Linked DNA regions of Homo sapiens. The protein of the gene in region 2 purifies or fractionates together with the protein of the main gene of each other region. This does not show direct contact. Each region holds a gene or a part of one and is shown on either strand. Other genes may lie near its edges. The genes, in order: SMARCAD1, ZNF480, DDI2 and MRPS9.

What was found.
Region 1: the proteins of ZNF480 (region 2) and SMARCAD1 purify together in Homo sapiens (co-immunoprecipitation; one large-scale study listed by IntAct). This does not show direct contact.
Region 3: the proteins of ZNF480 (region 2) and DDI2 purify together in Homo sapiens (co-immunoprecipitation; one large-scale study listed by IntAct). This does not show direct contact.
Region 4: the proteins of ZNF480 (region 2) and MRPS9 purify together in Homo sapiens (co-immunoprecipitation; one large-scale study listed by IntAct). This does not show direct contact.

The regions. Positions count from the first base shown.
Region 1 is NC_000004.12:94,208,341-94,216,853, forward strand, and holds part of SMARCAD1 (SWI/SNF-related matrix-associated actin-dependent regulator of chromatin subfamily A containing DEAD/H box 1), read left to right. Parts: intron 1-5; 5' UTR 6-54; coding exon 55-244; intron 245-4,694; exon of another isoform or gene 4,695-4,812; intron 4,813-5,397; exon of another isoform or gene 5,398-5,430; intron 5,431-8,513. UniProt on the Homo sapiens protein: DNA helicase that possesses intrinsic ATP-dependent nucleosome-remodeling activity and is both required for DNA repair and heterochromatin organization.
Region 2 is NC_000019.10:52,320,810-52,328,449, reverse strand, and holds the end of ZNF480 (zinc finger protein 480), read right to left. Parts: intron 6,872-7,640; coding exon 5,592-6,871; 3' UTR 2,528-5,591; downstream 1-2,527.
Region 3 is NC_000001.11:15,617,937-15,626,449, forward strand, and holds part of DDI2 (protein DDI1 homolog 2), read left to right. Parts: intron 1-8,513. UniProt on the Homo sapiens protein: Aspartic protease that mediates the cleavage of NFE2L1/NRF1 at 'Leu-104', thereby promoting release of NFE2L1/NRF1 from the endoplasmic reticulum membrane.
Region 4 is NC_000002.12:105,094,600-105,103,004, reverse strand, and holds the end of MRPS9 (small ribosomal subunit protein uS9m), read right to left. Parts: intron 5,954-8,405; exon of another isoform or gene 5,851-5,953; coding exon 5,681-5,850; exon of another isoform or gene 5,607-5,680; intron 4,807-5,606; exon of another isoform or gene 4,743-4,806; intron 3,758-4,742; exon of another isoform or gene 3,705-3,757; intron 3,336-3,704; coding exon 3,244-3,335; 3' UTR 3,045-3,243; downstream 1-3,044.

The DNA.
Region 1 (8,513 bases), on a different chromosome or scaffold from region 2:
TGCAGATAGTTCATTTAAAGCCCCCATCCCTGCAAGGTGGTGCTTTCTACCAATATGAATCTTTTCAACCTGGACCGTTTTCGCTTTGAGAAAAGGAATAAGATTGAGGAAGCGCCCGAAGCAACCCCTCAACCTTCCCAGCCTGGCCCTTCTTCACCAATTTCTCTTAGTGCTGAAGAGGAGAATGCTGAAGGGGAAGTTAGCAGGGCAAACACTCCTGATTCAGATATAACTGAAAAAACAGGTGAGTTACAATGTTAAAATTGATGTAACATCAAGGACAGTTTTTAAAAGATGAAAGGCAGAAGGGATTCTCATTTTTATTCTTGATGTCATATATATTGATGCATTGTCCTGCGGTGTGCCCTTTTAAATACAGCTTTGGGACTGCCATAAGCACCATGTACCCTCAACTGAGCATCCATCCATTGTCGCCTCACTTTTATATGAGTTCTTCGAATATGGCCCCATGGTGGAAGTTGAAATTAGAATTTAGGGCATCCATAGGTCAGAACGGTTGCTATTGGAAGAGCGATGTCAGTGATTCAGTCCTATGATAAACTTTGAGGCTATTTGGGCAGACATTTTCATTCATTCCAGTATTCCCTCAAAATATTGATCATCTACTGTGAGCTAGACATTGAGCAAGGTGCCTAAAGACAACCTCTGTACACAAGGGAAGATCAGATCACATCAAGTTCTTGCATCCACCTGACTTCCTGGATGTCCTCAGAATGCAAATGAGTAATTGGTATTCTTCATGGTGAATGAACATTTTTAACCTCATCAGCAGATTGTCAGAGACAAAAGTATTTGAGGATAAGCCAAAAATTAAGATTTCCACTCGAATCTATGTTCATTGAACAGTTAACTATTAGAGGAATATATTTGAGCTCTTGTTGTATTATAGGAATAGTGATAAGTGCTTCACCTTCTGTCATTTAATTTGCACAATAATCCTACAAGGTAGATATTACTGACATAGAGGTTAATGTGAAATGAGATTCAGAGAGGTTATTAGGAACTTGGTAGAGCCTGAACTCAAGTCCTGGCAGTATGATTCCTGAGCATAAACTAATTAGTTAGTTTCTTAGGAAAGGTGAAAGGAATGTTGGAAGTTATATTTTAATATTTATTTCAGTAATATCTTTTTTTATGCAAAACTCTGTTTCGTAAACAGCTTTTAACTTAATGTAGCCTGAAAGATTGGTAACACACATGTTTATCCTTGGTATCTTTTTGTTTGCCACCCTTCTACTTAAATGTAATAATGATGGCAGATCCTCTGCAAGTTATCATTAGAATAACATTTTTAAATACTTTGGTGTAATTGGAAATTGGCAGAATGATTTGGTAGATTGGATTAGGAGTCAGATTTACAAAGGCTTTGTCTAAGTAGTTTTGAATTTAAATGCTATAGGGAACAACTGAAGGATTTTAAGCACCAGGATTTTAATCCCTGTGTTCACTCTTTGAATAGATATTTGACATCCAGGTATTTTAATGCTTTTCCAATGAATATATTTGTCTGTTTCCTCTGTAGTTAGATAGTTCAGGAAAGCCAAGGTGTAGACATGGGATTTCGAGTCCATAGAAGCTTCTGCTTCTTCATTTTTGTTAAATGTGGGACATTAGACAAGTCATTTGAAATCTGTGATCCACACTTTTTTCATCTCTGAAAGTGAAAGCAGTTTGTAAACTGGATTTCAGTGGAATGTTTTAGTTATTTATCAGTATTGGTCATGTGAAATCTTTAATTTCCTTTAGTGATCAGAAGATATTTTTCTGTTTTTATTTCTTTCTAATGATAACACTCATTTTCTCTTTATTGGGACTTTTTTCCATACATAAATTCTGCTTAAAAACTGAGATTGCTTTAGGAATTACATGATCAGCCTTGATGGCTTCGGGAAATAAGAAAACTAAGTTTGTTCTAGGAATGTTGAGAATTAATCCTTGTAGGAATGGAGCACTTTGCTTTAATAAAAGATTGTTTTAAATGATACTGTGAATTTTGGAGAATCTTGAAAACTGAGAAGTTTAGATTTTACATTGTAAGTATTAGATATCCATTGAAGAACTTACAGAGTGAATGGAAAATGGTGAAAGAAAGTTTTAAAAGTCAGTTTAGCAGTAGTGACTAGTACACACTGATTGAGGGTAGGGATTGAAGGGAAAGAAAACATTTAGGCAACTCCTGTAATTGAGCTTAATGATAGCGGTAGAAATGGAGAAGAAAGAGATATGAGAGGTTTCAAAGTAATGAAGGGCAGGGTTTAGATCCCTGATGGGAATGAGATAAGATGAATGGTAAGATTTTTATGCGCGGTGGCTGAAGCCTGTAATCCCAGCACTTTGGGATGCAAAGGTGGGCAAATCACCTGAGATCACAAGACCAGCCTGGCCAACATAGTGAAACCCCGTCTCTACTAAAAATACAAAAATTAGCCAGGCATGGTGGAGCGTGCCTGTAATCCCTGCTGCTCAGGAGGCTGAGGCACAAGAATTGCTTGAACCTGGGAGGCAGAGGTTGCAGTGAGCCTAGATCACACCACTGCACTCCAGCCTGGGGGACAGAGACTGTATCTCAAAAAAAAAAAAAAAAAAAAAGGTAAATGTCTTTAAGAATTCAAATAAGAATCGAAGGTCTGGCTGGGCACAGTGGATCACCCCTGTAATCCCAGCACTTTGGGAGGCTGAGGCGGGCTGATCAGCTGAGGTTGGAAGTTCAAGACCAGCCTGACCAACATGGAGAAACCCCGTTTCTACTAAAAATATAAAATTAGCTGGGCATGGTGGTACATGCCTGTAATCCCAGCTACTCGGGAGGCTGAAGCAGGAGAATCACTTGAACCCTGGAGGTGGAGGTTGCAGTGAGCCGAGATTGTGCCATTGCACTCCAGCCTGGGCAACAAGAGCAAAACTCCATGTCAAAATAAATAAATAAATAAGAATAAAAATCAAAGGTCCTGCCCCCAAGTGCTAATTTAGCCTGGGGTCTAGGGATTGCTGAGGAAGTGGGGATTCAGAATTGAGTGTTGGATCTCTGGAGAGGACAAGATACTGAAGTTAGATTTTAAGGTCAGGACTGGAGATGAAAATTGGTGAATTATAAATAGGATGTGACTATTGACCTTACTTCTTTATCATGTGGTAACTTTTCATACTCCCATTGTGGGATAATGCTGCGTTAGTTTATTTACAGTAAAGTGTCAGGTCAAACTAAGTCAGCTTACAGGACAGAAATTGTATGTAGTCAAAATTACCTGTAATCACTCTTTTTGACTAATCCTGTTATTTTATCTAGTGAGTTGACTTCATTTCCTATGACCCTCCTTCAGTTACTGTGCCACCACCACATTGTTTCTTGAATCTTTCAAGCAAGGTCCCATCTTTGCTTCTTCCAATTTGCTTTTTTGCCTGGAAGACTCTTCCTGCTGATATTTGCATATGACTCAGATGCTTTGTTTCATTAAATCTCAGTAAAATGTCACCTTTTTAAGAAGACCTTCCTTGATCACCCTGTGAAATAGCCACCCACCCCAGCCCACCCTACCCCAGCTTTACTGTTATTTTTCTTCATAGTATTTATCACTAGCTAACCTTTCATTATGTAGTTGTGTATCACTAGCTAACATTACATTATATAGTTGTGACTCCCTTGTTAGAACATATGATTCATGAGAGCAGGACCTTATCTGTTGTGTTCACCTATTTATCTCCATTGTTCAGGGCAACGACTGGCTTGTCGTAGGCCCTCAATAAGTGCATTGAAGTAAATATTATTGCATGATGAGTGGGCATTATTAGTACTTTATACATTTTTTAAAATTTATTTATTATTTATTTGTTTTTAGACAATCTCACTGTGTGGCCCAGGCTAGAGTGCAGTGGCAGAATCTTGGCTCACTGCAACCTCTACCTCCTGGGTTCAAGTGATTCTCATACCTCAGCCTCCCGAGGAGCTGCGACTACAGGCTCATGCCACCATGCCCGGCTAATTTTTGTATTTTCTGTAGAGACGGCATTTCGCTATGTTGACCAGGCTAGTGTCAAACTCCTGACGTCAAGTGATCCACGTGCCTTGGCCTCTGAAAGTGCTAGGATTATAGGCATGAGCCACCACGCCCAGCCCTATACATATTTATTTATTATTATTTTTTTGAGATGGAGTCTTGCTCTGTTACCTAGGCTGGAGTGCAGTGGCACAATCTCGGCTCACTGCAACCTCTGCCTCCTGGGTTCAAGCAATTCTCCTGCCTCAGCCTCCCAAGTAGCTGAGACTACAGGTGCACACCACCACAGCCGGCTAATTTTTGTATTTTTAGTAGAGACAGGGTTTCACCATGTTAGCCAGGCTAGTCTCAAACTCCTGACTTCAGGCTATCTGCCTGCCTTGGCCTCCCAAAGTGCTGGGATTACAGACATGAGCCACCACACCTTTATTTTAAAATAGGACCTTAAAATAGTCCCTTTAGCCATCAGGTGTTCTTTGGCCATGGTTGCTTGAAGCTTCTTTTGGTACAGGACATCCTCCCTAATGCCCCTCTAAATCCCAGCCAGCCTTTGGATTTGAGGGCATACACTTAACCTCTGCCCCCTGATTTATTTTACTCTTCTCGGTGCCCAAAGTTGTCAATGATTGTTATTTACACATTATTTCTCCTTTTTTTCTTTGACTTTTGGGAGTACAGTGAGTTTGGAGGGATTGAAATAATGGCAGGTGAAAGGGAAGAGAGATCCTACTATATTTTATGAATAAAGAATAAAAATGAGTGAAGCCTGATCCTCCAAGAGCACCAGGAGAAAATGGTATGTAAATATATAGTTAAAATAGTATGGTGTGATAAAACCATATAATAGGGCAAAATACTAAGCAAAGTAGAATCACTATCTGTAATTCACAAATGATTGAATTATCCATTCTTCAGGGGAGGATCACAAAAAGTCACAGAGATATGACCTTTGGAGTGGACTCTAAACAATGAAATCATTGTTTACTGGGTGAACAAATGATGAGAGAGTTGAAAATATATGTTGCCTCCAAGAGTCTAATATGTGTGTGGAGGGTTGGGGGCAGATTATAGAACAGGAGGTTTTAGACAATATAGATGAAACTGAAAAGATAGAAGTGTAAACCATTGGGTTGTGAGGGGCCTTTATATCCTGTGTCAGGGACGGTAGATCTTATTTGGTACACATCATAGAGCATTTCATTATGGAAATGCTATTAGTGAAGCTGTTGTATTCATTGAAGCCTCAATGTAGGGAAATGACTGTAGAGATGACAGAGGAGGCAACTGAGGGGAGTTGTAAATGATACGCATTTGATGATATTAGGTGATCAGTTGAATGTGGAGGATTTACAGATAACTCAAATGTTCCTTGCTTGGACAGCTGGAGGATTGACACCATGGACTGAATTAAGAGGTGAGTTTAGGAGAAAGATACTAAAAATTATGTTGTGTTTGCATTACCCATCCTATTTTAGTACCAAGGTAGTAGATGGTTGAATATTAGAGCTCAGAGAGTGGTCTAAACCCTAGAACTTGGGACTCATCAATGTCCTAAGCAGGGTGTACAATAAAAAACATCATTTGACAATGGGCAGGAAAACCAATGAAAAATTTGAAGGATGACTAGAATAGTCATAGAAAATGATAGTGTCCTGGATACCTAAATACCTAGTTTGGTATTTAGTTGTCTAGTAACAAATCCTGTAGAGAAGTCAAGTTGAGTGGGGACTGATCAGTGACCAGTTTCCTTGGAATTAAAAGTAACTACTAACCTTTAACAGTTTCAGTAGAATGGTGATGAGATAGAGATTATTCATTCAGGAAAGGAAAGAGAGAAATAGGTAACCTGATTGGGAAGTAATGTCAAGAAAATATGTTTCAGGATTATTGAAAATTGAGCGTTCTTTTGTTTTTTTTTTTTTTTTTGAGACAGTTTCACTCTGTCACCCAGGCTGGAGTGCAGTGGCGCAATCTCAACTCACTGCAATCTCTGCTCTCGGGTTCATGCCATTCTTCTGCTTCAGCCTCCTGAGTAGCTGGGACTACAGGTGCCCGCCACCACGCCGGGCTAATTTTTTTTTTTTGTATTTTTAGTAGAGACCCGGTTTCACCGTATTAGCCAGGATGGTCTCAATCTCCTGACTTGAGATCTGCCCGCCTCGGCCTCCTAAAGTGCTGGGATTACAGGCATGAGCCACCGCACCTGGCCAAGCGTTTGTTAACCAAGGACAAGAAGCTAGTGGAGAGGGAAGGACTGAGGGAGGGAGGTATCTGAAGAGAGGCATCAAGTGATGAGAACTGAAGAACAGTTGGACTGTTTAACTGTGCAAAAGAATAAAGACATATTTTCCCTGGGGGGGATAATTGAAGGAGATAAAAATAGATGGGTTCATAGATTATTTTGGCATTGGCGGAATGGAGGAAAGTTTTAGTATATGTTTGATGAATTTTTTTTTTTTTGCTGAAATAGATTTAGTCCTCTAGAGTGGTTGCCTTTTCAAGGTGGTTGTCATATTGAAAGTAGCACTTGTTGATAAGTGAGAGACATTTTTAAAACTATACCAGTCGTCAGAAAGATTTCCTGAGAGTATTGCTCTGCCACATACAGATTGTATGATCTTGAGTAAAAAGTCAACTGTTTGGGTCTTACAGTCTTCTCCTGGCTTTGCTTAGTTTTCTGTATTCCTTGCCCACATTAAAATGGTTATTATCCTTTGAATGATGATACTGAATGTATCATTTTAGCTTCATAATTCCGTGACCATTGCGCAATACTCAGTCTTTTTGTAGGTGTCTGTGGCCAAAATGTGAGCCATCGTTAAACCTGTAGATAGTCATTGTGGTTTCTTAATGTCTGTTAATGTTAATTGAAAAGCAATACTTAGTTAAAGGGTTAGTGCTGAATTGTTGTAACAGAAAGTACAATAAGTACTCAAAAGTAAGTAGGAATCTTAAGTGCATTTTAAATGTGCATGTATTTGGCTGGGCACAGTGGCTCATGCCTGTAGAGTCGCAGCACTTTGGGAGGCCGAGGCAGGAGGATTGCTTGAGACCAGGAGTTCAAGACCAGCTTGGGCAATGTAGTGAGACCCTGTCTCTACAAAAAATGAAAAAATTAGTCAGGTGTGGTGGTGTGCACCTGTAGTCCTAGCCACTTGGGAGGTTGAGACAGAAGAATTGATTGAGCCCAGGAGTTTGAGGTTATGGTAAGCTGTGATCACTACACTACATTCCAGCCTGGGCAACAGAGTGAGATTCTGTCCCAAAAAGGGGGGTGGGGGGGAGGAGGGGGATAGAAATATTATTTTAGTCATTGTCACTTCACCCTACACACAAATTTCACTAGTTTGTATCAGACTACATCTTGGTTTTGATGTCTGCTTTTTCATACCTGTCTAAAATATTGCAGACCTTTATTATCTTTAATAAGCTAATAGGCAAAAGTATGTTATTGTTGCTTTTTCTTTATTTTTTAGTTTAAGTATGTTTTCATAAATTTACTAGCCATTTGGATTTTTTGTGTTTCTTTATGCTTTTCTGTTTTTCTAATACATGTCTCTCCGATAAATTATTTGTAAGTATATCTTAAATTCCACGTGTCTTAGTCTGTTAGAACTGCTGTAACTACCATGAACCGGGTAGCTTATAAGCAATAGAAATCTACTCTTGGCAATTCTGGAGGCTGGGAAGTCCAAAATCAAGGTGCTGCAAGATTAGGTATCTCAGGGCCCTATTCCTAGACCACAATCTTTTAACCCCATGTGGCTGAATGAGTGAGGGGTCTCTTGGGCCTCTTTTATAAGGGCACTAATCCCATTCATGAGTGCTCTGCCCCCATCACCTAATACCCCTTCCTCCCTCCAGCAAATGTCACCTCCTAATACCATTACCATAATGGTTAAGATTTCAACATACCGTTTTGGGGAGTGGGGCACAAACAGACCATAGCACCCCCTTTGTTGTTTGCCATAGAAAAATTTTAGATTTTTATGTGGTCACCTTGTTCATCCTTTCCTCTAAGTCTTCTGCATTCCGCATTACCACACTATAAATATACTCATTCATATTTTCCTCTAGTATGTCTGTTAATTTTAAAAATTATGATAAAATACACATAAGAAAATTTACCATCTCAACCATTTTTAAGTGTACAGTTCAGTACATTCAGTTCAATACATATACATTGTCATGCAACTATTCTCCAGCACTCTTTTCATCTTGTGAAACTGAAACTCTTTATGCATTGAACAACTACTCCTCATTTCTGATTCCCCCAGCCCCCGGCAACTACCGTTTACGTTGTCTTTTTATGAATTTGACTATTCTAAGTATCTCATTAAAGTGGAATCATCACTTAGCATAACATCCCCAGGATCCATCCATGTTGTAGCATATATCAGAATTTCCTTCCTTTTTAAGACTGAATAATATTTCACTGTGTGTATATACACATTTTGTTTATCCATTCATCCATCAATGGGCACTTGGATTGCCTCC
Region 2 (7,640 bases):
CTGAAAAATCCCTAATGCCTAGTGACACTGCAGCCATGGTAACATCACAGCACAATTACTTTATTTTTAAAAAATAAATTTAGTATAGCCTAAGTGTACAGTGTTTTGTTTTTTTTTTTCTTTTCTTTTTTTTGAGATGGAGTCTTGCTCGGTCACCCAGGCTGGAGTGCAATGTCATGATCTTGGCTCACTGCAACCTCCGCCTTCTGGATTCAAGTGATTCTCTCACCTCAGCCTCCTGAATATCTGAGATAACAGGCATGCGCCGCCACACCCGGCTAATTTTTTTGTAATCTTAGTGTTCACAAGGTTTCACCATGTTGGTCAGGCTGGTCTCAAACTCCTGACCTTGTGATCCAGCCATCTCGGCCTCCCAAAGAGTTGGGATTACAGGCGTGAGCCACCGTGCCCAGCTGTGTACAGTGTTTCTAAAGCCTACAGTAGTGTGGAGTGTGTCCTAGGCCTCTACATTCACTCACTACTCCTCACTGTCTCACCCAGAGTAACTTCCAGTTCTGGAAGCTCCACTCATGGTAAGTGCCCTATATAGGTGCACTTTGTTTCTTTTATATGGTATTTAATGTGGGGTGATCTTGGCTCACCACAGCCTCCACCTCCCAGGTTCAAGCAATTCTCCTGCCTCAGCCTCCCGAGTAGCTGGGATTACAGGCAGGCACCACCATGCCTGGCTAATTTTGTACTTTTAGCAGAGACAGGGTTTCTCCACGTTGGTCAGGCTGGTCTTGAACTCCCAACCTCAGGTGATCTGCCCACCTCAGCCTCCAAAAGTGCTGGGATTATAGGCATTAGCCACCACGCTCGGCCTCATATGGTATTCTTATGGTAACTTTTCTATGTTTAGACACAGAAATACTTTCCATTTTACTACAATTGCCTACAGTATTCAGTAGTGTAACCTGCTGTACAGGTTTATAGCACTGTGCCTGTCAGGAAAAAGGTTTGCTGAACACAGTAAGTAGGATGACTGATACATAGTTTTGTTATTCTCTGCTCACCTCCATGCTGTCTAAATCAAACAATATTTAACCTGAAAAGGCAATGTCCTTCTTCCAGGAAACTGGATAGAAATGCTCCCCAGCTAATAAAATCAGCCCTGTCATGCTGTTGATTCTTTCCCAGAGACCACAGTGAAAGGCCTGTAGGAAAAGCACATAATGAGAGTTTTAAGTTTAGGCTGAAAGTCATAAAGAGTAAAGTAGCCTTTCCAAAACTCCCAAGGAATTAAATATTTTAATAACCTGAATAAAAATCGCAATTTCCACATACCCTTGCATCATGAGGCTTGGTATCTTTTGGCTTGTAATTTTTCTGCAACATGCTATGTCATATATTAATACGGAAGTACTAGAGACTGAGTTATTTCTTCTGTAAATGCTCAGTGCTCTCATGTTCAATAGTTATGGTCCTTGATTAATACCCTTTGCATCCACAATCCACAATCCATCTTTATGGTTTTGTTTTGTTTTTTCCCGAGACAGAGTCCCACTCTGTTTCCCAGGCTGGAGTGCAATGGCCCAATCTCAGCTCACTGCAACTTCCACCTCCTGGGTTCAAGTGATTATCCTGCCTCAGCCTCCCCAGTAGCTAGGATTGCAGGTGCATTCCACCATGCCCAGCTAATTTTTGTGTTTTTAGTAGAGATGGGGTTTCACCATGTTGGCCAGGTTGGTCTTGAACTCCTGACCTCAAGTGATCCGCCCACCTTGGCCTCCCAAAGTGCTGGGATTACAAGTGTGAGCCACTGCGCCCAGCCTATGGTTTCCTCAAAGATGTATGTGTTGACGTCCAGTGACTTGGTGGGGCTGGATAAAGCCTGTGTCACATACATTTATATGATTTCTCTCTAGTACGACACTCTGGCGCTGATTAATATAAGAACTCATAATGAAGAGTTTTCCATACTCTATAAGGACTCTCGTGAATGAATTATCTGATGCTGTGGAAGGTGTGAATTCTGATTAAAGACCTTACCACGCATGTTGCATTTGTAAGGTTGCTCTCCAGCATGGATTCTGTGATGATTTGCAAGGTTTGAATTCTGAGTAAAGACCTTGCCACATCTTTTTTGTTTGTTTTTTGAGACAGAGTCTCACTCTGTCGCCCAGATTGGAGTGCAGTGGCTTCATCTCTACTCACTGCAGCCTCTGCCTCCCAGGTTCAAGTGATTCTCCTGCCTCAGCCTCCTGAGTAGCTGGGATTACAGGTGCATGCCACCATGCCCAACTGATTTTTGTATTTTTAGTAGAGACAGGTTTTCACCATGGTGGCCAGGCTGGTCTTGAGCTCCTGACCTCAGGTGATCCACCTACCTTGGTCTCCCAATGTGCTGGGATTACAGGAGTGAGCCACTATGCCCAGCCCCATATCCATTACAACTGTAAGGTTTCTCTGCATTACAGATTACCTGATGAATATTAAGACTTGAAGGCACACTAAATGCTTTGCTACATACATTTGTAAGGTTTCTTTGCAATATAAATTCCTTGATGTTTTACAAGGTGTGAAATTTGCTTTTTTTCATGTTTTATTTTAGGTTCAAGGAGTATGTGTACATGGGTCAACTGCATGTTGCAGGAGTTTGGTGTACAGTTAATTTTGTCCCCAGGTAATCAGCATAGTACCCAACAGGCAGTTATTCAATCTTCATCCTCTTCCCAACCTCCACCCATAAGCCCGTGTCTACTGTTCCCTTCTTTGAGTCCATGTGTAATCAATGTTTAGCTCCCACTTATAAGTGAGAACATGGGATATTTCATTTTCTGTTCCTGCATTAATTCACTTAGGATAAGAGCCTCAGCTCCATCTATGTTGCTGTAAAGGACACAGTCTTGTTCTTTTTTATGGCTGCATAGTATTCCATGGTGTATATGTACCAAATTTTCTTTATCTGGTCTACTGCTGATGGGCATTTACGTTGATTCCACATCTTTGCTATTGAGAATAGTGCTGCAATGAACATACAAGTGTTTGTCTTTATGGTGGAATGATTATATTCCTTTAGGTATACACCCAGTAATGGGATGCTGGGTTGAATGCTATGTTCTTTTATGTCTTTGAGAAATCGCTGCAGTGCTTTCCACAATGGCTGAATTAATTTACATTCCCACCAGCAGTGTATAAGTATTTGCTTTTCTCTGCAGCCTCACTAGCATCTATGTTTTGATTTTTTAATAATACCCATTCTGATAATACCCATTCAGACAGGTCTGAGATGGTATCTCATTGTGGCTTTGATTGCATTTCCTTAATGATTAGCGATATTAACCATTTTTTTCATATGCTTATTGCCACATGTATGTATTCTTTTGAGAAAGGTCTATTCATGGCCTTTGCCCAGTTTTTAATGGGGTTGTTTTTCTCATTGTTGATTTGTTTGAGTTCTTTATAGATTCTGGATTAGATCTTTGTCAGATGCAGTTTGTAAACATTTTCTCCCATTCTGTAGTCTGCAAATAGCTTCTTTTGCTGTGCAGAAGTTATTTAGTTTAATTAGGTCCCACTTGTCAATTTTTGTTTTTGTTGCAATTGCTTTGGGGTGTTCATCATTAAGTCTTTTCCAGCACTTATGTCCAGAATGGCATTTCCTGGGTTTTCTTCTAGGAATTTAATACTTTTAGGTTTTATATTTAAGTCTTTAATCCATCTTGAGTTGATTTTTGTATATCGTGAAGGATAGGGGTCCAGTTTCAATATCCTGCATATGGCTAGCCAGTTATGCCAGCACCACTTATTGAATGAAGTTCTTACTTCATTGCTTGTCAGTTTTGTTGAGGATCACATGGTTGTAGGTATATGCCTTTATTTCTGGGTTCTCTTACCTATTCCATTGATCTATGTGTCTTTTTTTATACCAGTACCATGCTGTTTTAGTTGCTGTAGCCTTGTAGTATGGTTTAAAGTTGGGTAGTGTGATACCTCAAACATTGCTCTTTTTGCTTAGGATTGCTTTTGCTATTTAGGTTGGGCTTTTCTGGTTCCAAATAAATTTCAGAATGTTTTCTTCTGATTCTGTGAAAAATGCCATTGGTAGTTTGATAGAAATAGCATTGGCTCTGTAAATTGCTTTGGGCAGTATTTTAACAATACTGATTCTTCCTATCCATGAGCATGAGATATTTTTCAATTTTTATTGTTTCTGATTTCTTTGTGCACTGCTTTGTAATTCTCATTGTAGAAATCTTTCACTTACCTGGTTGGCTGTATTCCTAGGTATTTTATACTTTTTGTGGCTACTGTGAATGGGATTCCATTCTTGATTTGGTTCATAGCTTGGACATTACTGGTGTATAGAAATGCAACTAATTTTTGTACACAGATTTTGTATCCTGAAACTTTTTTGAAGTTGTTTATCAGATCTAGGAGCCTTTGGGCAGAGACAACAGGTTTTCTAAATACAGAATTATATCTTCTGCAAGAGAAACTGACTTCCCCTCTTCCTATTTATATATGCCTTTCATATCTTTATCTTGCCTGATCACTAAGCTTAGGACTTCCAGTACTATGTTGAATCGGAGTGGTGAGAGTGGTCATCCCTGTCATTTTCCAGTTCTCAAGGGGAATGCTTCCAGCTTTTGCTTGTTCAGTATTAATTTGGCTGTGAGTCCAGCATAGATGGTTCTTATTGAAGTATGTTCCCTCAATGTGTAATTTGTTGAGGGTTTTTAAAATGAAGGGATGTTGAATTTTATTAAAAACCTTTCTGCATCTAAAGAGATGATCATGGTCATGTGGTTTTTGTTTTTAGTTCTGTGTATGTGATAAATCACATTTATTGATTTGTGTATACTGAACCAACCTTGCAGCCCAACACTAAAGCCTGCTTGATAATGTTGGATTAGCTTTTTGATGTGCAGATGGATTTGGTTTACTAGTATTTTGCTGAGGATTTTGGCACCTATATTCGTCAGGAGTACCAGCCTGAAGTTTTCTTTTTTCATTGTGCCTGTCAGGTTTTGGTATTAGAATGATGCTGGCCTCATAGAATCAGATAGGGAGGAGTCCCTCTGCATCCATGTTTTTGAACAGTTTCAGTAAGATTGGTAACAGCTTTTCTTTATACATCTCGTAGGCTTCAACTATAAATCTGTCTGGTCCAGAGTTTTGTTTGATAGATTTTTAATTAGTGATTAAATTTTGGAACTCATTATTGGTCTGTTCAGGGATGCAATTTCTTCTTGGTTCAATCTTGGGGGGTTATATCTTTCAAGGAATTTATTAATTTTTTCTAGGTTTTCTAGTTTGTGTGCATACAGGTGTTTATAGTAATCTTTGAGGGTTTTTCGTATTTCTGTGGGGTTGGTGGTAATGTCCCCTTTGTCATTTCTGATTGTGTTTTTTAGATCTCCTTTTGCAAGGTGTGAAATTTTTTTGAAGACTTTTCCACACATTTATTATAATTGTGAAGTCTCTCCAGTATAAATTCTCTAATGAGTTATTAGAAAAACTTGTGTTTGAAGACCTTGTCATATTCTTTACATTTGCAAAATTTCTTTGCAGTATGGAATAAAAGATGGGTAGTAAGGCTTGAGTGCACACTAAATTCTTTGACGCATTTGTTGCATTTGTAGTTTCTATCCCATATGAATTGTCCAATGTTGTGCTAGGTATGAAATGCGACTAAAGGCCTTGCCACACTCATTACATTTGTAAGGTTTCTCTCCAGTATGAATTTTCCGATGTCGTGCAAGGTGTGCAATTCGATTGAAGACCTTGCCACATTCATTACATTTGTAAGGTCTTTCTCCAGTATGGATTCTCTGATGATTGGTTAGTGATAACTTGTGTCTGAATGCCTTGCCACATTCACTACATTTGTAAGGCTTCTCTCCAGTGTGGATTACAAGATGGGCTGAAAGGCCTGAATACTCACTAAATGCTTTACCACATTCATTACATTTGTAAGGCTTCTCTCCAGTATGAATTCTTCGATGTCGTGCAAGATTTGAAAGTTGATTAAATACTTTTCCACATTCATTACATTTGTAAGGTTTCTCTCCTGTATGAATTCTCCAATGTTGTGCTAGGTGCGAATTTTGAATAAAGACCTTTCCACATTCATTACATTTGTAAGGTTTCTCTCCAGTATGAATTTTCTGATGTCGTACAAGGAGCGCAATCCTATAGAAGGCCTTGCCACATTCATCACATTTGTAAGGCTTCTCTCCAGTATAAATTCTCCAATGATTTGCTAGAGATGACTTATGACTGAAGCCTTTACCACATTCATTACATTTGTAAGGTTTCTCTTCAGCATGAATTCTTTGATGTCGTGCAAGGTAAGAATTATTACTGAAGACTTTACCACATTCATTACATTCATACGGCTTCTCTCTGGTATGAATTCTTTGATGTCGTGCAAAGTTTGAATTGTAACTAAAAACCTTGCCACAGACATTACATTTGTAAGGTTTCTCTCCAGTATGAATTCTACAATGTTCTGCAAGGTGTGAATTGCGACTAAAGACCTTGCCGCATGAATTACATTTGTAAGGTTTCTCTACAGTATGGATTACTTGATGTTTAGTAAGGCTGGAAGATACTCTAAAGACTTTGCTATGCTCATTACATTCATAAGGTTTTTCTCTAAGGTGTACTTTCTGTTCTTGTGGGAGAAATGAAGAATCATCAAAATCATTCCTATTAAAAATGGGGGTTTTGACACTGGAAGACATTTCTTGAAGACAGGAAACAGAGGAACTGTGGTTGATAAAGTTTTCAACTTGATTACATCCATTTATTACCCTTTCATCTGGAAATAGCTCCAGTTCAGACAGATGTAAGTGAAAGGATACTCCAAGTTGTTTTTTAATTGGTTTGTCTTCTGCATTGCTTCCCAATGCATAGCTGCTCCCTAGGAAAGCAAGAAAAAAGTAAAATTCAGACCCCATAATTCTGGCATGTTTAGAGTCTGATGAAAATACTAGAATCTGCCTCATCTGACTCAGACATTGGAAGAAATATCAGCACACTTTGTACATCACGCTGGTTGTGCTGAAAATAGAAAAGGGTAAGGTGATGCACTGGAGTTCTGGGAAATCTGTAGGAGTCAGGAGGATTACAGGTGAGTTTGAGAGGGATTATGAGTAGAGAGATAGAACAGGAATTGAAACCTTCTGAGAAAAAGAAGGGACAAGTCTCTAGGGAAAATAAGACACTCAAGAGAAGCAGTATACATAATAACAGTACATGCACAAAGCTAGGAAAGGCACATCCCCAGAAAAGGAGTGAGTGTTCCCACACCCTTTACAACAGGCTAATTAGAAAAGATCTCCCTCTGACCAAGTCTTATACAAAACAACTGAGAGAAGCAGTTATTTTACCAAACCTAATCCAAAAATTACAAGGCCTATGAAAGGAAAGAGAAATATGGCTAAAAAATAAATAAAGCCAAACCTAGAAAAAGACAGGCAGCTCTCTAAATTACTAGACAAATATTTATTTATTTATTTATTTAAGACAGGGTCTCACTCTATCGTCCAGGCTGGAGTGCAGTGGTATAGTGTAGCTCACTGCAGCATCTACTTCCCCAGCTCAAGCGATCTCTCCTGCTTCAGCCTCCTGAGTAGCTGGGTCTACAGGCATGCACCACCACATTCAGCAAGTTTTGGGGTTTTTTGTTA
Region 3 (8,513 bases), on a different chromosome or scaffold from region 2:
CCCCCGCATCCGGAAAGGAGCTGGGGAGCTGGCATCAGTAGCTGCCCTCACACACTCCGAGCATGGGGTGGGGTACGAGGAGAGGGAGCGGAGAACCTGACCGCAGACGCACCCACTGCAGCGTGAGGGGCGCGTGGACTGTTGAGCAGCGCTAACCCTCCCCACCTTTGGCTCTTTGGCCCTTCCCTGTTTCTAATCCCGAGTGTAGGATATCGTTGTGGACCTCAGAAGCAGCCCTGGGTTTGCTAGGATTCATACATCCTGCAAACCAGAAATACCAGTTTGGATCACTGTGGTAGATAGATGTTCCTCTGCTTTTTTTTTTTTTTTTTTCTGGAGAGGGTTTCTGCTTAAATATACGCAGTTTACCTTTAAATGCACAGATTTGCACTTCCGGTGAAAGAAAAAGTTTAAGACTTGCACTACCTCATTTTGGGGTCTTTGGAAATGCTCTTTACCCACCACATGCGTTTCTGGTTAAATTCTTTTGAAAAACAGTACCTATTGGTTCAACTCAAGCTGTTTGTTTGTTTCGGTTCTACCCTGGTAGTAAGCCAGAAGGCCCTTTTTCTTTCAGGTCACAGTTCAGAGTTTGGGTCAGTTCAAAGCTCAATGCTTTAAAAGGATATTTGCTTGGAAACGGCCTAGTATCAGTGCTGTTTGGTGGTTTCATTTCCCTACTCAGCTTGCTGGAAAGAAGTTCAGCCTCTCATATTTTAACTAAGCAAAGTAATTCTCAAAATGCTTTGGGGCTGCCCCTAGTCTTTATCAAACAGAATCGGTGACACTAACGCTGTAAACTTTACACTAAAACACTTAGATCATGACTTAATAAATTTAGCCTGGAGGAAATAGTCTAAACATTAAGAAAATTATAGAGGTCTCCCAAGTCTCCATCAAGTAAATCTTGATTTTCTACTGCAGTTATGAAATAGTTTACAAAACGATTGCCCAACTGCAGCTTGTTCTGCTGTCTTATGGTAAACACGTGTCAATACTTTGTTCAGAAGTATGATTCCTTTACACAATGTGAACTTTAGAACCTTGGCATAAAGCTGTTCAGAAAGAATTTAAAAAGTTAATCCACAAAAGCTCAGGAACCAGTTCTGTCAGTGAATGCCTCATGTGGAGAACTAGGAAAGGACTGTTTAAATAGAGAAAATAAACTCTTCAATTTTTTTTCTTTTTTTGTTTTTGTTTTTGAGACGGAGTCTTGCTCTGTCGCCCATGCTGGAGTGCAGTGGTGCGTTCTCGACTCACTGCAACCCCAGTCTCCCGGGTTCAAGCGATTCTCCTGCCTCAGCCTCCTGAGTAACTGGGACTACGGGCGCGCGCCACCACGCCTGGCTAATTTTTGTAATTTTTTTTTAGTAGAGACGGGGTTTCACCATGTTGACCAGGCTGATTTCAAACTCCTGACCTCTAGTGATCTGCCCGCCTCGGCCTCCCAAAATGCTGCGATTACAGGTGTGAGCCACCGTTCCCGGACAACTCTTCAATTTTTGATAGTGGCTTTTTCTTTTCTTTTCTTTTCTTTTTTTTTTTTCGAGACGGAGTCTCTGTCGCCTAGGCTGGAGTGCAGTGGCGCGATCTCGGCTTACTGCAAGCTCCACCTCCCGGGTTCGTGCCATTCTCCTGCCTCAGCCTCCCGAGTAGCTGGGACTACAGGCGCCCACCACCGCGCCCGACTCATTTTTTGTATTTTTAGTAGAGAAGGGGTTTCACCATGTTAGCCAGGATGGTCTCGATCTCCTGACCTCGTGGTCTGCCCGCCTCGGCCTTCCAAAGTGCTGTGAGCCACCGCACCCGGCCCGATAGTGGCTTTTTCAATTGTTTTTTCCTCTAGCTGTTATATTACCCTGGTTATGATCACCGGCTGGTAGGGAAAATAAGAAATTAAAATGTAAATTGATTTTGTTGTTAGGGCTTGGGAAAAGACAGAGGTTGAGGTTGTTTCCATTCCTGCACTTTTTGTGATGGCTGAAACAAGAAATTTAAGTCAAAGGGATACCTGACACCCCCTTTAATTGACTTAAATTTCTTGTTACAGCCATCATAAAAGACGATTTATTGTGTGGTCAGCCAGACATTGCCCTCTGCCAGTTGGTAAAGTTAGGAATACCTTAGTAATTGAACATAGGCTAACTCCAAATTATTTCTTGTTCATTATGTCAATGTTTCGGCATTTACTTCCTTCCCAAGCCAAATTAGCATATAGAAACTTGGGCTCCAACTGGTGTTAAGCCTGTATTAGATAGCCATAAACAGCTCCTGTTTTTCCAGTCTGTTCTGTTGGCTCCATTGTAACCTGACAACACAGTATCTATTTTAAGGTGTCTGGTGGTCGGTTGTCTTTCACTTGCTTGCTTGCCCATCAGGCAGGAACAGGATCCACCCTAGACACTTGAGTCATTTCCTTTCATCAAATCATAATAGTAAACATCACTATAGTTTTTACCCATAAATATATCATGTTTACTTACTTGAGTGTCCCCCCCCATTACCTCCCAGGGTTCTCTCATATTACTCATCTTCCCTTCCTTTCCTAGACTGTTTAACTCCTCCTCTTGTTTACATTCTCCATTCCCATTCCTTCACCTCTCATTTCTGATTCCATTTCTTCAAGGAAATATATATATTTTTATGTTCTGGCTATTTTTTCCTGCCACTATGTGTCCACACCACTGGTGTCCAAACTTTCATTCATGTATCCCTATCAGTAAAATGTTTCAGATTATGCTTCTGTTATGTATATAATACATTATATACATGAACTGATACGTTGTATACATTATATATGGCCACATGTGCATATAATACACATAACGTGCATTATATGCATATATAATATGTTATCTGTAAAGTAACATTGTACACACACAAAATGGAGCTTAAGGAAGGACGAACTAAAATAAATGGAAATGAAAATTCTAATATTTTCAGTTTCTTCCTCCACCGTTAAAGAATTGTCTTGCATGGCTGCCCTACATTGGTGATCAATGGTTTAGAATTCAGTCTTTCACCTGAGTGTCAATTGCACATAAGCATATAGTTGGAAAAGGTGTTAATTTTTAACAGCTCTAGTCTGATGATAGTAGTTACAATGCAGTGATAACAAATTTAGAACAAGCCATCTCTGCTTGTACATGTGATTAAAGCTGGGCATGTTCTGTCTCTTAATAGAAGTGTGGGCTTGGAAGCCAGTCATGGCTCTGTTTGATGCTTTGATGCAGACTTGCCTGGGTGAACTTCAAACAGTTATCAGAACTTAGCTTCACTTTAAATTAATGTCTTCATATTTTTGAGACATGATAATTTACCTCTGTAGGTGGCATATGGAAAAAGTAGGCACAACATACAAGGACCCTCAAATGAAAGGCAAATAATAGCAGTAATTGTATGATCTTGGAAATGCACACAGCATGATTTGTGGTTTGTAAACCACTATTTTATCTTCTGTGTGTTTGTTTTTTTGAGACAGGGTCTTGCTCTGTCACCTAGGCAGTAGTGCGCTCACAGGTCACTGTAGCCTCAACCTCCTGGGCTCAAGTGATCCTTCCACCTCAGCCTCCTAAGTAGCTGGGACTACAGGTGTATGCTACGACATATGACTAATTTTTTTGTTTTCTTTGGAGATGGGGGTTTCACTGTGTTGGCCACGCTGGTCTCAAACTCCTGACCTCGGATGATCTGCCTGCCTTGGCCTCCCAGAGTGCTGGGATTACAGGCGTGAGCCACCGCATCCGGCCCCAAATTGATAATTTTAAAGGCTACATAATATACCATCATATAGATGTGTTGTAATTTAGCAATTTCCCTTTTGTTGAGCATAATATTGGGGAAAATTGGAAGCAGTTGTAAGTAACATGCCATGAACATCCATATACTTAAGACTGTAGCCTCCATTTCTGTTTTCTCAGGATGAATTCTTAGATATGCAGTTGCCAGATCAAAAGCATAAAGTCTTTGAAAGGTTTTTAGTAAATTTAGATTATACAAGTCAAATTGGCTATTACATGGGGTAGTATATGTAGATAACTTGGTAGATATTGGGTATTTGATTAATGGTAATACTATTATGAAGCCATTCAGATGTAATTCCAAATGTTTTGTGGCCGGTTTATGGTCCTTATTTTATCTTTATTCTTTATATTTTAGAGATGGGATCTCGCTCTCGCCCAGGCTGGAATGCAGTGTTGCAATCACAGCTCACTGTATCCTCAACATGTTGGGGTCAAGGGATCCTCCCAAGTAGCTGCGACTTTTTTTTTTTTTTTTTGAGACGAGGTCTTGCCAGTGCTAGGCTTGAACTCCTAACCTCAAGCAGTTCTCCTGCCTCTGCCTCCCAGAGTGTTGGGATTACATGTGTGAGCCACTGCACCTGGCCTACTAGTTTATGTTCTGTAATGCTAGAAATTTATTGTTAAGCTTTTTGTTAATAGAAGGCTCTCATTCAGAGACCAGAAAACACCTGACCTCATGCTTAAAAGTTCTGAAGTTTTATTAATTAGTCTATTGTTAAATGTTGATTAAGATTATAATTCAGTCTCTGGGGTGCCTCCTCTGGAGTAAGTACCAGCAGTTGTGCCAGTTTTGCTGATTAAGACTCATAGCTGTATACATTTTCTTGTTGTATGTTCTTATAACTGGCAAAACTTGAATTTTGGGCTTTGTAGCTGTTGAGTTGGGTAACATGAATGGTGGAAGGATCAAGAATGCCGGCAGCGGATCCCCTTTTGTTTTTATTGGTAGAGATTTGAAGCCATGTCTAATAGATACTGAATGTTTGGTTGGAAGATCACATGGATTTATTTTGGGACTTTTGCTGCAAAATAATTGTCTTTCTTGGACTCTTAAGCCTATTTAAACAAAAAGAAATCAGTTCTTTGTGGCAATTACAATTTTAGCTAAGCTTTAGTTGATCTCATTTATGTCCTTAGATTAAAATGGAGCACAGCTGCTGCTTCGTCAGTGTGAGGAACGTGTGCGCCTCACCCAGGTTCTTCAGTCTAGTGTTTCCAGGAAATTGGCGCTGAAGCAACATTTCATATTTCATAGACATGCTCAATGTGGTGGTTATCTAGATTTTACATTTTTATTGTTAGATCATGCTGCCTTCCTTTAAAAAATGCTATTGTCTGCTGAGGAAATATTGTGGCAACTAAGCAGTGATGGAGTGAAGTATGGCATCTGTGAAGTGGGAGTCAGAGCGGGCAGTTGGTGGTGTTTCTTCATGTCCAGGGCATGGGGATGCGTTGAGCAGTGGACAGTATTTTGATCCTCTTAGTGGATAGAGTCTCTTAGTGGCAATGGATGGCTTAGTAGTACTTGTTAAAATCACCCAGCTAATTCACCAGGCCACTTTAGGGTTATGTTCGGGAAAGCTGTATATGATACTCCTGGAGTAATGGGCTTTGAAATTAGACAGTTCCAATTGCAGTTTTCTTCTTCTTTTTTTTTTTTTTTTTTTTTTAAGAGACAAGATCTTATTCTGTTGCCCAGGCTGGAGTGCAGTGGTACAATCATAACTCACTGCAACCTCGAACTCCTGGGCTCAGGTGATCCTCCAGCTTCAGTCTCCCAAATAGTTGAGACTACAGGCATATGCTACCATGCCTGGCTTATTATTATTATTATTATTATTATTTTAGAGATGGGGTCTTGCTGTATTGCCCAGGCTGGCTTTGCATTCCTGGCCTCAAATGATCTTCCTACCTCATCCTCCCAAAGTTTTGGAATTAAGGCGTGAGCCATGGCACCCAGCCTGCATAGGATCATTTTGATTCTCCTGAGTTTGCTTCCTCCTTGTAAATAAATAAATTTTCTCTTATAAATAGTTAGTGGCCGGGCGCAGTGACTCACGTCTGTAATCCCAGCACTTTAGGAGGCCAAGGCGGGCAGATCACAAGGTTAGGAGATCGAGACCATCCTGGCTAACATGGTGAAACCCCGTCTCTACAAAAAATACAAAAAAAAAATTAGCCGCTTGTGGGGGCAGGTGCCTGTAGTCCCAGCTACTCAGGAGGCTGAAGCAGGAGAACCTGGGAGGCGGAGCTTACAGTGAGCCGAGATCCCGCCACTGCACCCCAGCCTGGGCGAGAGCGAGACTCCGTCTCAAAATAAATAAATAAATAAATACCGTTAAAATGTGCCTCTGCTCCCAGGAGACTGTTCATGTATCTCTAAATATACTGATAGTTGAATTTCTGAAACTGGAAAATTAAAGAGTAGGTTGTTGACAGTGGCTTCACAGTGTTGATGCTATGCTGTAAGAGCCTGCCTACCTGCCATTTCTCTTGACATACCTCTTTTTTCTTGTTGCACACCTCAACCTGTGACGCTCATCACTTCTGGTTTATGTGTTTTTTCCAAGCAGTCTCACAAGTTATAATATGACTCTCAGTTGTTTTGCTGAAATTCTGTGTTGATGGTGATGTACTTTTACTGTGAAATTTGTGTTTAAATGAGGGTGTGTGAATGGGATGATGGGAGTGACAGTTGCAGTCTGTTGAAATGTGGTTCTTTTTTTGTTTGTTTTTGTTTTTTAAGAGACAGGGTCTTACTCTGTTGCCCCAGGCTGGAGTGCAGTGGTGCAACCGCAGCTCACTACAGCCTGGACCTCCTGGGCTCAAGCAATCCTCCTGCCTCAGACTCCTAAGTAGCTGAGACTACAGTCACATGCTACCATGGCTGGCTATTTAAAATTTTTTTTTTTTAGATATGCGGTCTCACTATGTTGCCCAGGCTGGTCTCAAACTCCAGGGCTTAACCCATTTGTGCTTAGCCTTCCAATGGAACGCTAAGCTTGTGGGAGTTATATCCTACTACTCAAGGTCATTGCCAAGGTATGATTTTTTCACAAAAGAAAATTTGCAACCTCTGGCCTAAATGGGTTAAGTGATGCTCACACCTCAGCCTCCCCAAGTGCTAGGATTATAGGCATGAGCCATCATACCAGATCTGAAATGTGTTTTAACTCAGCGAGTTGAGCATTAAGGACTTAATAGTATTTTTTTTCAAGTCATGCATAAAACTTGTATAATTGGGCCTACAAATTTGCTCATATTCAGAAGAATTTGATTTTGGTAGGAACTCATTTTCCTGTTCTGTTCCTCATGTCTATAAATTCTGAGAGCAGATATGGCATAATCACTTTTTTTCCAGTTTAAATGCTGTGTTTTCAGTTTTTATTTCAGGTAACCTTACTATGAAAGCTGTAAGGAAACATAGAATGATAATGTTAGCAGAGAGAACTGGAAGGGACAGCTGTAATGATGATCTAGCCCACCTGCTTGCTTGACACATGGGAAGGGTGAGGTCTGGACCTGCTGAGTGTCATGCCCCTCGCAGGGAGTTACTGGCAAGGATAGAACTCATGTTCCTCAGTTCGCATGTGGCCTGGTGAAAAATCATTAGGAGGAAAACCTTTCAAAGCCTGAGTTTGTTCTGAATGCCTTTCTGGAGTATGTAATAATGCAGGGCAGATTTTATGTTTTTTCATGATAAAATTATAGTGTACCTTTGTTCTTTCTATCTGCAACACATTATTTCATCTATTTGTGCTGTCAGGTTTTTTTCAGTTTGATTACACATCATAAAATATTTTTATTAGTAGTACATTCCTAATTCTTTTTTCCACTTGTATTTAGTTGTTATTTTCTTAGTTTCACTTTATTTTCCAGTCTCCCCCCTCCCACCACCCCACCAAGATGGAATCTTGCTTGCCCAGGCTAGGGTGCAGTGGTGCGATCTCAGCCCTGCAACCTTTGCCTCCCGGGTTTAAGCAATTCTCCTGCCACAGCCTCTGGAGTAGCTGGGATTACAGGCACGTGCCACGACACTGGGCTAATTTTTGTATTTTTAGTAGAGACGGAGTTTCACCATGTTGGCCAGGCTGGTCTCGAACCCCTGACCTCGTGATCCACCCGCCTTGGCCTCCCAAAGTGCTGGAATTACAGGCGTGAGCCAGCGTGCCCGGCCCAGAGTGATAAAACTTTGGGGGTGGTAGAAGAGAAGGAAGATTGCAGTGCAGGAAGGATGATATTTGGGACCCTTTTGCCAGTGTTCAAGATTATTTCAAAGTGCACACTTTATTTAATAGTACTGTAGTTAGTTAGCATACCCAGAATAAATCATTCCCTTTTCCTCCCTGCTAAAAATTAAATCTAAAATTATATCCATTTCCATAAATTCATTCATTCTTTAGTTCAACAAATATTTGAGCATCAGTTATATAACAGGCCCTGTTCTAAGCATTTATGATCTCGTGAATGAAACAAAGTCTTTGTCCTCAAGTAGTTTACATTTAATGGGGCAGAAGGACAATAAGTAAATATATATTGTGTTAGTTGAGAGTACATTTTAAATAACATAGTAGGGAAGAACTCTAAAGAGTAATGTTTGATCAGAGACGTAAAAGGAAAAAAATGAGTGGAAAAAGAACATTCCTCAGGTAGAGAAAACAAGAGAAACAGCCCTGAAGGGGAAGTTGATCCCTGTTGTTTGAGGAACAG
Region 4 (8,405 bases), on a different chromosome or scaffold from region 2:
TCCTTTCTGTTCCCTGCACTGGGTCCCATCCCCTCCATGTACAATAGCTGCCTGGCAGGTCTCTTCCTTCTAGCAACTCCCTGCTCCTGCAGTCCCTCCGTGACCTTCCTGATGGGGAGATCCTCAAGACTTTTCCCATGAGCTCGGGGTTCCTGAGGCCCAGAAGAAGGTGAGAGTTAAGGCTCCGATTTTGTTGTTATATTATGCACTATGACTCTACTTAATATATATATACATATATTTTAAAGGTTGCTAAAATATAGTTTAAAAACACAGTTCTAATTTCAACCCTCATCTGTTCTCTCAAAGGAGAAAAAAAGGCTGATTCCCCTTTGGCAGTGCAGGAACATCACCATGAATTTCAGACCCTCCACAAATCCACCTCAGCCTCCTTCCCAGCTGGTTTCCGCAGGGACCTCGTCCCTCCCCAGCAATGCCCTGGCCCGCCTGGCTTCACTCCCTGCACATTTCCTGAACTTTCCTTCCTCCTTTCTCGCCATTTTCTCCATCTGTACTCCCACCCTCTCCTTTCATGGCCTCTTTTTTCCCCACCACCTCCTCCTCAGAGTGCTACTGTCCTCAGGGCCCCCTTCCTCAGCTCTCCTCCTGGCACTGTACGAGCAGCACTCCAGGTCTCCCGTTAGACTTGAGGACTTTGTCTCCTCCACGATACCAACAGTAGCTGATGCAGGGCCAGATGGCATATACTTCAGGCAGCTCTGCACTGCCCCAGGACACCAGGTATGGCAAGAGCTCAGCAAGCGGGCGATCCGTGCCGGCAGGGCTGCCCGCCATCCCATCTCAGCACACCCACGCCACGTGGGGTAACCACTTGTCACTTCTCTCTTGTCAAAATGGTAAAAAGTATACTCCAACAGATACAGGCTAAATCAACACCACCGACCAAAACCTGCCACAGACAATTTCACTAGAGAATGACCGCCACACAGAAAAAACCCCAGAAAGTATTTTCTACAGTTTCATCTGAAATGAAAAGGGCACTGGGTACCGCAGGGTACTGGGTACTCACTCTCACTTGTTCATCACCATGTTATTTTATTTTACCTCATAAAGGATTTGATGTGTATATACATGTCTCAGAACTTATTCAAGATTATTTTAAAAAGACACTTATGAAGAAATCAGTGGCATACAACTCTTTATATAAAGGATAATTGAGCATTGAGGGTCTAATTCTTGAAGCAATATTTTTACTTAAAATAACTGCATTGAAATGGATTTTTTTTTTTTTTTTTTGAGACAGGATCTGACTGTTACCCAGGCTGGAGTGCAGTGGCACAATCTCGACTTACTGCAGCCTCTGCCTCCTGGGTTCCAGCGATTCTCCCACCTCAGCCTCCCGAGTAGCTGGCACTATTGGCGCATGCCACCACACCCGGCTAATTTTTGTATTTTTTGGTAGAGATGGGGTTTCACCATGTTGGCCAGGCTGGTCTCAAACTCCTGGCCTCAAGTGATCCACCTGCCTCAGCCTCCCAAAGTGCTGGGATTACAGGCGTGAGCCACCACACCTGGCTTAAAATGGGTTTTAAAGTACCCCTGTTACCAACTGCCCCTTTCCTCCCTCAAAAACCTACTGCACAATTGCATTAGAGTTAAAATGCCAAAGTTTCTTCATTTTAAGGTACTTTAGAAATCCTAGAGCAAAACTCAATTGAACGCTTAGCTATGACTGAAGAGTCTCACTCCTGGCCAAACACCTATGTGTGATCTTTCATGCCAAACCATGGTCAATCATAAAGACTGCCTGGTGGGCCTCACGGGGGCAAGCTACACTCCCCACACCTGACTTGTGCACAGCCAGTGCATGACAGGTCCTGGGGGCCACAGTCAAGGACTCAGCCCACCTCCCCGCAGCCCGTGCTCTTCCAGAGCTATGTGCACTCCTGGCTGGGTGCCTTCATTCAGAGGGATCTGTTCCTTTCATGCAAGTCCTCCCTCAGGCTCCTCAGCTGAGACTTCCTGGGGAAGGGAAGCTTGAAGCCACTTTTCTCCATATCTGTGCTGATCCAAAATGGAATCCACAATTGTTTCAATAAAGAAACTGTGGCATATATAAACACAATGGAATATTATTCAACCTTGAAAAAGGAGATCCTGCCATTTGCCACAACGTGGATGAACCTAGAGGATACTATGAAGTAAGCCAGGAACAGAAAGATAAGTAGTGCAAGATCTCACTTAGCTGTGGGGTCTTAAAAGTCAAATGTATAGAAGCACAGAGTAGAATGTAATCACTGGGGGTAGGGGGTGGAGGAACGTGAGATGCAGGTCAAAAGGTACGAAGCTGCAGTTACATAGGATGAGTAAGTCTAGAGACCTAACGTACAACATGAGGACAACAGTGAATCATACTGTATTGTATGCTGGAAATGAGAAGAGACCTTAGATGCTCTTTCCACACACCCACACCTGGGAAACTATATGAGAGCTACGCTGATTTGCTTGACTGCAGTAATCACTTCACTCTGTAAATGTATATCAAAACATCCTGATGCATACCTTAAAAATACACAATAAAAAGATTTTTAAATACCCCCAAAACAAAACTGATCCAAAATAGGGGGCAGGGGTGCCTTCTTTGCCGCAGCCTTGCTCGTATTCCTGCAGCGAGTGAGCACAGACAGGCTTGACTGTGCCTTTCACTTGGCTGTTGTGTATACCAGCACCTCCCACACCTGGCAGCTCAGCTCCCTGGCTCTGCTGAGCTCCTGACCGACTCAAGTTACTTCATTCTTCTGAGCAAGCACTCTCACTTCTCATTTTGAAAAATACGTGGTGACAATTGCCAAGTGGGGAAGCAACAGAATCAGGGGAAATGAGTCTAGCTCTAGCATTGAAAGTACCAACAGTATGGCTCTGGTTGGTTGCTTAATCTGGGGGGCTAAGCCTTCTTGTCTGCAAAATGAGGTAACTTGACTATATTTTGCTGAATATTCCTTTCAGGTCTAATATGCCAGATTCTATGAATTATGCTTCTTAAAACTATATTCTGAAAAAGTTAAAAAAATAAAGCGGCAGAATGAAACTAACATTCTTTATTTTCCTTTTATTTTTTAAAGGTCACCTTTACAAAGTAGCATTTAAAAATAAATCCATCTCACAGCTCAAAGAAATTTCTGACAGTACTGCCCTCATGCTGGTCAGCCATTATTTACTGTGTGTCTGCCACATGTCGGCACATATATATAGCTCTTCCTCTCCTTTCCTGGGAGCAAACCCTTAGCGTTTCTTCCACGTAAACTTTCTGCGGGCTCCCTCTTGGCCTGGCTTCTTCCGTTCCCTCACACGTGGATCAGTAGTAAGTAGTCCAGCTGCAGCATAAAAAGAGAAGCCTTTAGGAACCATTAATATGCATGCTGCCCAGAAGAAAAGCAGGTTCATAAATTTATAGGTACTGTTGTCTGAGAAAAAAAACTAGAGGAAAGCAACCAGACCAGTAATAATTTACCAGCCCAGTATCAACCTCATGATGGCAGTTTGCTTCCACTCTTTCAGGATATTTTTCCAACCTCTGAGACAAACACAAGTTACATTATTTAAACCTGCTTCCCTTAAATTATAAGAATCATGGCTCCCTTTTGGTTTTTAAGCTTGCTCAACCTAAGTGAGATAAAGCTCCTCTTGTGTGGGCGGTCACTATTCACTGTAAGGGAACTTAACCTGCACACTTACTATTGCAGAGGACAGAGTTTTAATGGAGACAAGAGGCAGAGAAGAAAAACTTACTGTAAAGGTGAAGTATGAGAAAGTACTTAGATACCATCTATTAACAGTTTACATGAATATGCATATACACACAAATATGACTTGTCAAACATTTAAAAAAGGAAACTTTCATTATTTTAATTTATGCCATAATAATATTCCCTGTTTTTTTGTTTTAGAATCTAAAAAATAAGTTTTAGAGTTGTATTCTCAGCACAGGCAGTTTCTTCTAGAAGAATAAAGTCAGTTTAAACGGGAAACTTTCATTCTCCCAATCATCAGGAGTGATTATGTTTCTAGGCAACTGCTGGGGTTACTCTTAGCTATGGCCCATAAGGAAGAGCCCCAGCAGTGGCTGGAGCTATAGTAAGTTAGTAAAGACCATAGATTCCAAGAATACCACTGATGGGAAAGCTCTTACATTGCTTTTATAAATATGTAAATGGACCATACTTTTTCCTTGTCTTTTTCACTCTTCCAACGTTAGCACTCCTCCTACTGTATACAAGGCTTGGGTATTTTATTAAGGACCATTTAATGTACATAGAGCAAAGGAAAACCTTGTTTATGATATACCCATAACATTTACACTTGCTTGTACTTAAAGGACATGCATGGAATAAAACAGCAGTATTTGACAAAATACAGAAAAGACCTAAGTTCTAGCTTCAACTGTAAGTAAGAATGCTTTATTACTTTCAGATATGCACAGTAGCTCAAACTCATCAAATTGTTAAGATTCTAGCAAATTACTTCAATGACTAGATATGAATCCCATATGATGACAAATTGCTTATAAGCAAATGGATTTTTAAGAGCCTTAAGCAATTAAGTAGCCTAAGCCATAGGTAGTGTTTTTATTGAACCTCAGCGGCTTGTACTAGAAGGTCTGGTGCACAGAGACCAACCTACTTGCCCAGAGGAGGAGCTTATAGACTTAGGTGCTAAGTGACTTGCCCACGACCATGCAGCCGCCAATAGCACACATGGTGCTTTCCTCTTCTCATCAACAGTGCGAAGATGGTCTTCAGCTCAAACTTCCCCAATTTATTCCAACTTCTAAAGCAGTAGTCTAAGGTAAGAATCAACTGCCCATCCTTTTTCACATTACACAGGGACTCTTGTATTCATGCCCAGGTAACAGGGTTACACAGAGTAGGGTAAAAGAAAATTCAAACACCACAATGGGAAAAAATGGAAACCTCCAATAACTTACAAAAACAAAATACCCAAAGAACTTTATCACTAACCAAATAATTATTACAAATTTCTATGACAGGCCAGGTGTGGTAGCTCATGCTACGTAATGTCAGTGCTTTGGGAGGCCAAGGCAGGATTGTTTGAGGCCAGGAGTTCGAGAACAGCCTGGGCAACATAGCAAAATGCAGTCTCTACAAAATATACAAAAATTATCCAGGTTTGGGAGTGTATGTCATAGTCCTAACTACCTGGGAGGCCGAGGCAGGAGGATTGCTCGAGCCCAGAAGTTTAAGGCTGCAGCTAGCTATGATAATACCACTGCACTCCAGCCTGGCTGACAGAGAGAGACTGTTTAAAAAACAAAAACAAAAAACCCACACATTTCTATGATAAAACAAAAACAAGCAATTTGTCTCTTAAATATAACTAAGCTAAGCACTTTGTTAAGCTGGATAAAAGGTTATGCATTAAGGCCAAAATTAACTTTTCCCTGACCTTGGAACTGAACATTTTAGCAGGGCTCAAATAATCAGTGTGGGGAGTTCTCCCCTTTTTCTAATTCAAGCTCACCTTGTAGAAATCAAATCTGAGAAATACTGTTATGGTTCTGTAGCAAGAAAGAAGACAGCGAAGTGAAATATTACATATGTAACTATATATTTTCTTACGAACTTCAGGCACTAGGACAAGAAGCAGATGAACATGTATAGCCAGTATTGGGCCACCATGCCCGTCCCACCTAGACTCATACCTTGTCTCATCCACTCGACCTCGTCCTCGGTGACAAAGCTGCACAAGGCTTTTGCCATTGCCAGTCGTATTGCTCCAGCCTGCGCTGACCTCCCGCCCCCTGAGACTGTGCAGGTCACGTCGTGCTTTCCCAGCCGGTCAACAAAGTGGAAAGGGAACATCAGCTGTTCTCTAAAGCACAGCACAAGTAAATGTGGTTACGTTTACTATAAAGATACATAATTATGTAAACAACTGAAATTCTGAATATTCATAAAAACAATATTCTGCATGCCACTGTTATACTTTTCATACTTCTCAATCAATCCATTTTACCAAGATATAGAAACACTAACATTTCTGACATTTTGAATGATTTGCTGAGAGATTAAGATTTATTTCTTTTGCTTGGGTATAGCAACACACTCTTACTGTTTGCTGATCCCCTTTATCTCAGAAGATCTTTTCAAAGCTTGAAAATAATCTCGTAAAGAAGTCTTACAGTTGGGGAACTCCATTAATCAACTGAATTTAATGTCTCTGGATTGAATGATCAGATATAAAATCAATAGGCCTTTCCAAACAATTATCACATGTCATTTGGATTCACTAAATAAAGTCTACTATAAGTGTATCTGTATAATGTATAATGCTCATCTTGATATGGTTAGTTTTTAAAGTTTCTAAAACTATTTTCGACCTTGCACTTCCCTGACACCAAACACCTATTCCCAATATTCTTAAAGTTCTCTAAATCATAGGGTCCTGCTACCTTCCTGGGGCCAGGTGACATTCTACACAACCCCTGTCAGGCCTGCTCTTTCAGGGTCGGTCAGGGCCTACAAGATCCTGGGGCAGGCACCACAGACAAAACACGGCCCTGGACTTTCTCCTGCTCAACTGAACAAGTATTTGTTGAATATCATTTTCACGCCAGGTAAGATGTTCACCATTACCTCTGTCAAGCACTTTGATTTTGCTATTTTGCCTTAATATCTTGCTACACTTTTATGCAGAAAAGCTCACTTATATTGCGTTTGCTTTCTTTGATGCTGTAGCTTCTAGACCCAAAATCAAGTTTATATAACACAGTTAAGCTGAGAGACAGGTATGGACAGGACATTCAAGTGCTATTCTTCATACCACACTAGTAAAATAATCACAAGCAGATGGGCAAAAGATGACTTTCAAAAGCCATAGCAAATCGGAATTTATAACAATACGATGTAGGGATGACATAACTCCTACAACAACAAAAAACTCATAAATCTATACTGTCTTTTTGAACAAATGCTTCCAAGAAACCAAATGAAAAGTAGCCATAAGTTATAAAAACAGTATTATAAGTAGTATCTATTAATATACTATGATAACTAAAGAAAATTTAAGCTGAGCACCTAAAGTACAAGCTACTCAGGAGGCTGAGGTGGGAGGACTGCTTGAGCCCAGCAGCTTGAGTCCAGTCTGGGTCCAGAAGTTTGAGTCCAGCCTGGGTGACATAAAGAGACCTTGTCTCTTAAAAAAAAAAAGTAAATATAAAAGAAAATTTAGGCTGGGCGCAGTGGCTCATGCCTGTAATCCCAGCACTTTGGGAGGCCGAGGCGGGCAGATCACCTGAGGTCGGGAGTTTGAGACCAGTCTGACCAACATGGAGAAACGCCGTCTCTACTAAAAATACAAAACTAGCCAGGCATGGTGGTGCATGCCTGTAATCCCAGCTACTCAGGAGGCTGAGGCAGGAGAATTGCTTGAACCCAGGAGGCGGAGGTTGTGGTGAGCCAAGATTGCACCACTGTACTCCAGCCTGGGCAACAAGAGCGAAACTCCATCTCAAAAAAAAAAAAAAAAGAAAAAAAAAATGTACAGACTGAAAATCTAATTCCACTATTGCATTTACCTCGACCATCTGGCTCCATGACTCAGTTATATATCCAGTAATTACATTATGAAATCTATTTTTCTAGATTTTAATTGAAGTCTCTTTTTATTTATATAAGCATTTGTTAAAGAATCATAAAATTTTAAAAATTAAGCCAGGAAAGTGTTTAAGCTCCCAAACAAATGGCTGTCCAGAAGCCTCCCTTGTAACTTCACTTACGTGGCTAACCCACTTCACTGTGTGTTAGGTGATGACAGAATTCCGATCAAGATCCCTGATTCTGGGTTGGTTAGTCTTCCTATTAGTCAATGGTCACCTCACTGCTGATTTGTAAGTTCCTGAAGTGACTGCCCTAAATCCTTACAACTACTTTAAAATAGTTGTAGGTGCCCATTCCCACCAAGACTAGGCTTAGGCTTCCCAACCATGTAGGAAGTTTCTTGACAATAGGAATCATATCTTAAATATCTCTGATATCTTCACAATGCCCAGAACAAGACTGGAGACATAGATGTCCTTAGTAAAAAGCTGCTGAATTCAAACCAAAGAATAAGATCTAAAGATGTAATTTCATTATGAGATCAAGCCAGAATTGAGACTTGCTGTTAAATCATCAGGAGTTATGTCTGAATACAAATCAACAGACAGGTTATTGGTTAAAGAACAGTCCTCCTATAGTTCCCAATGTTGAAGTTATCAAACCCTGGGGTATGGGTTTCTCTCTGGCTTTTCCTAAGGGAAATAAAAGCTTCTTCCATCCCCTGTCCTGTGAGGATAATAGCAGAACTAATTCATCTTAAATGGAGTTAAGAATGCACTGCTTGTTGACACAGGCACACACAAATAAAATAAACACACATTTCCTAAA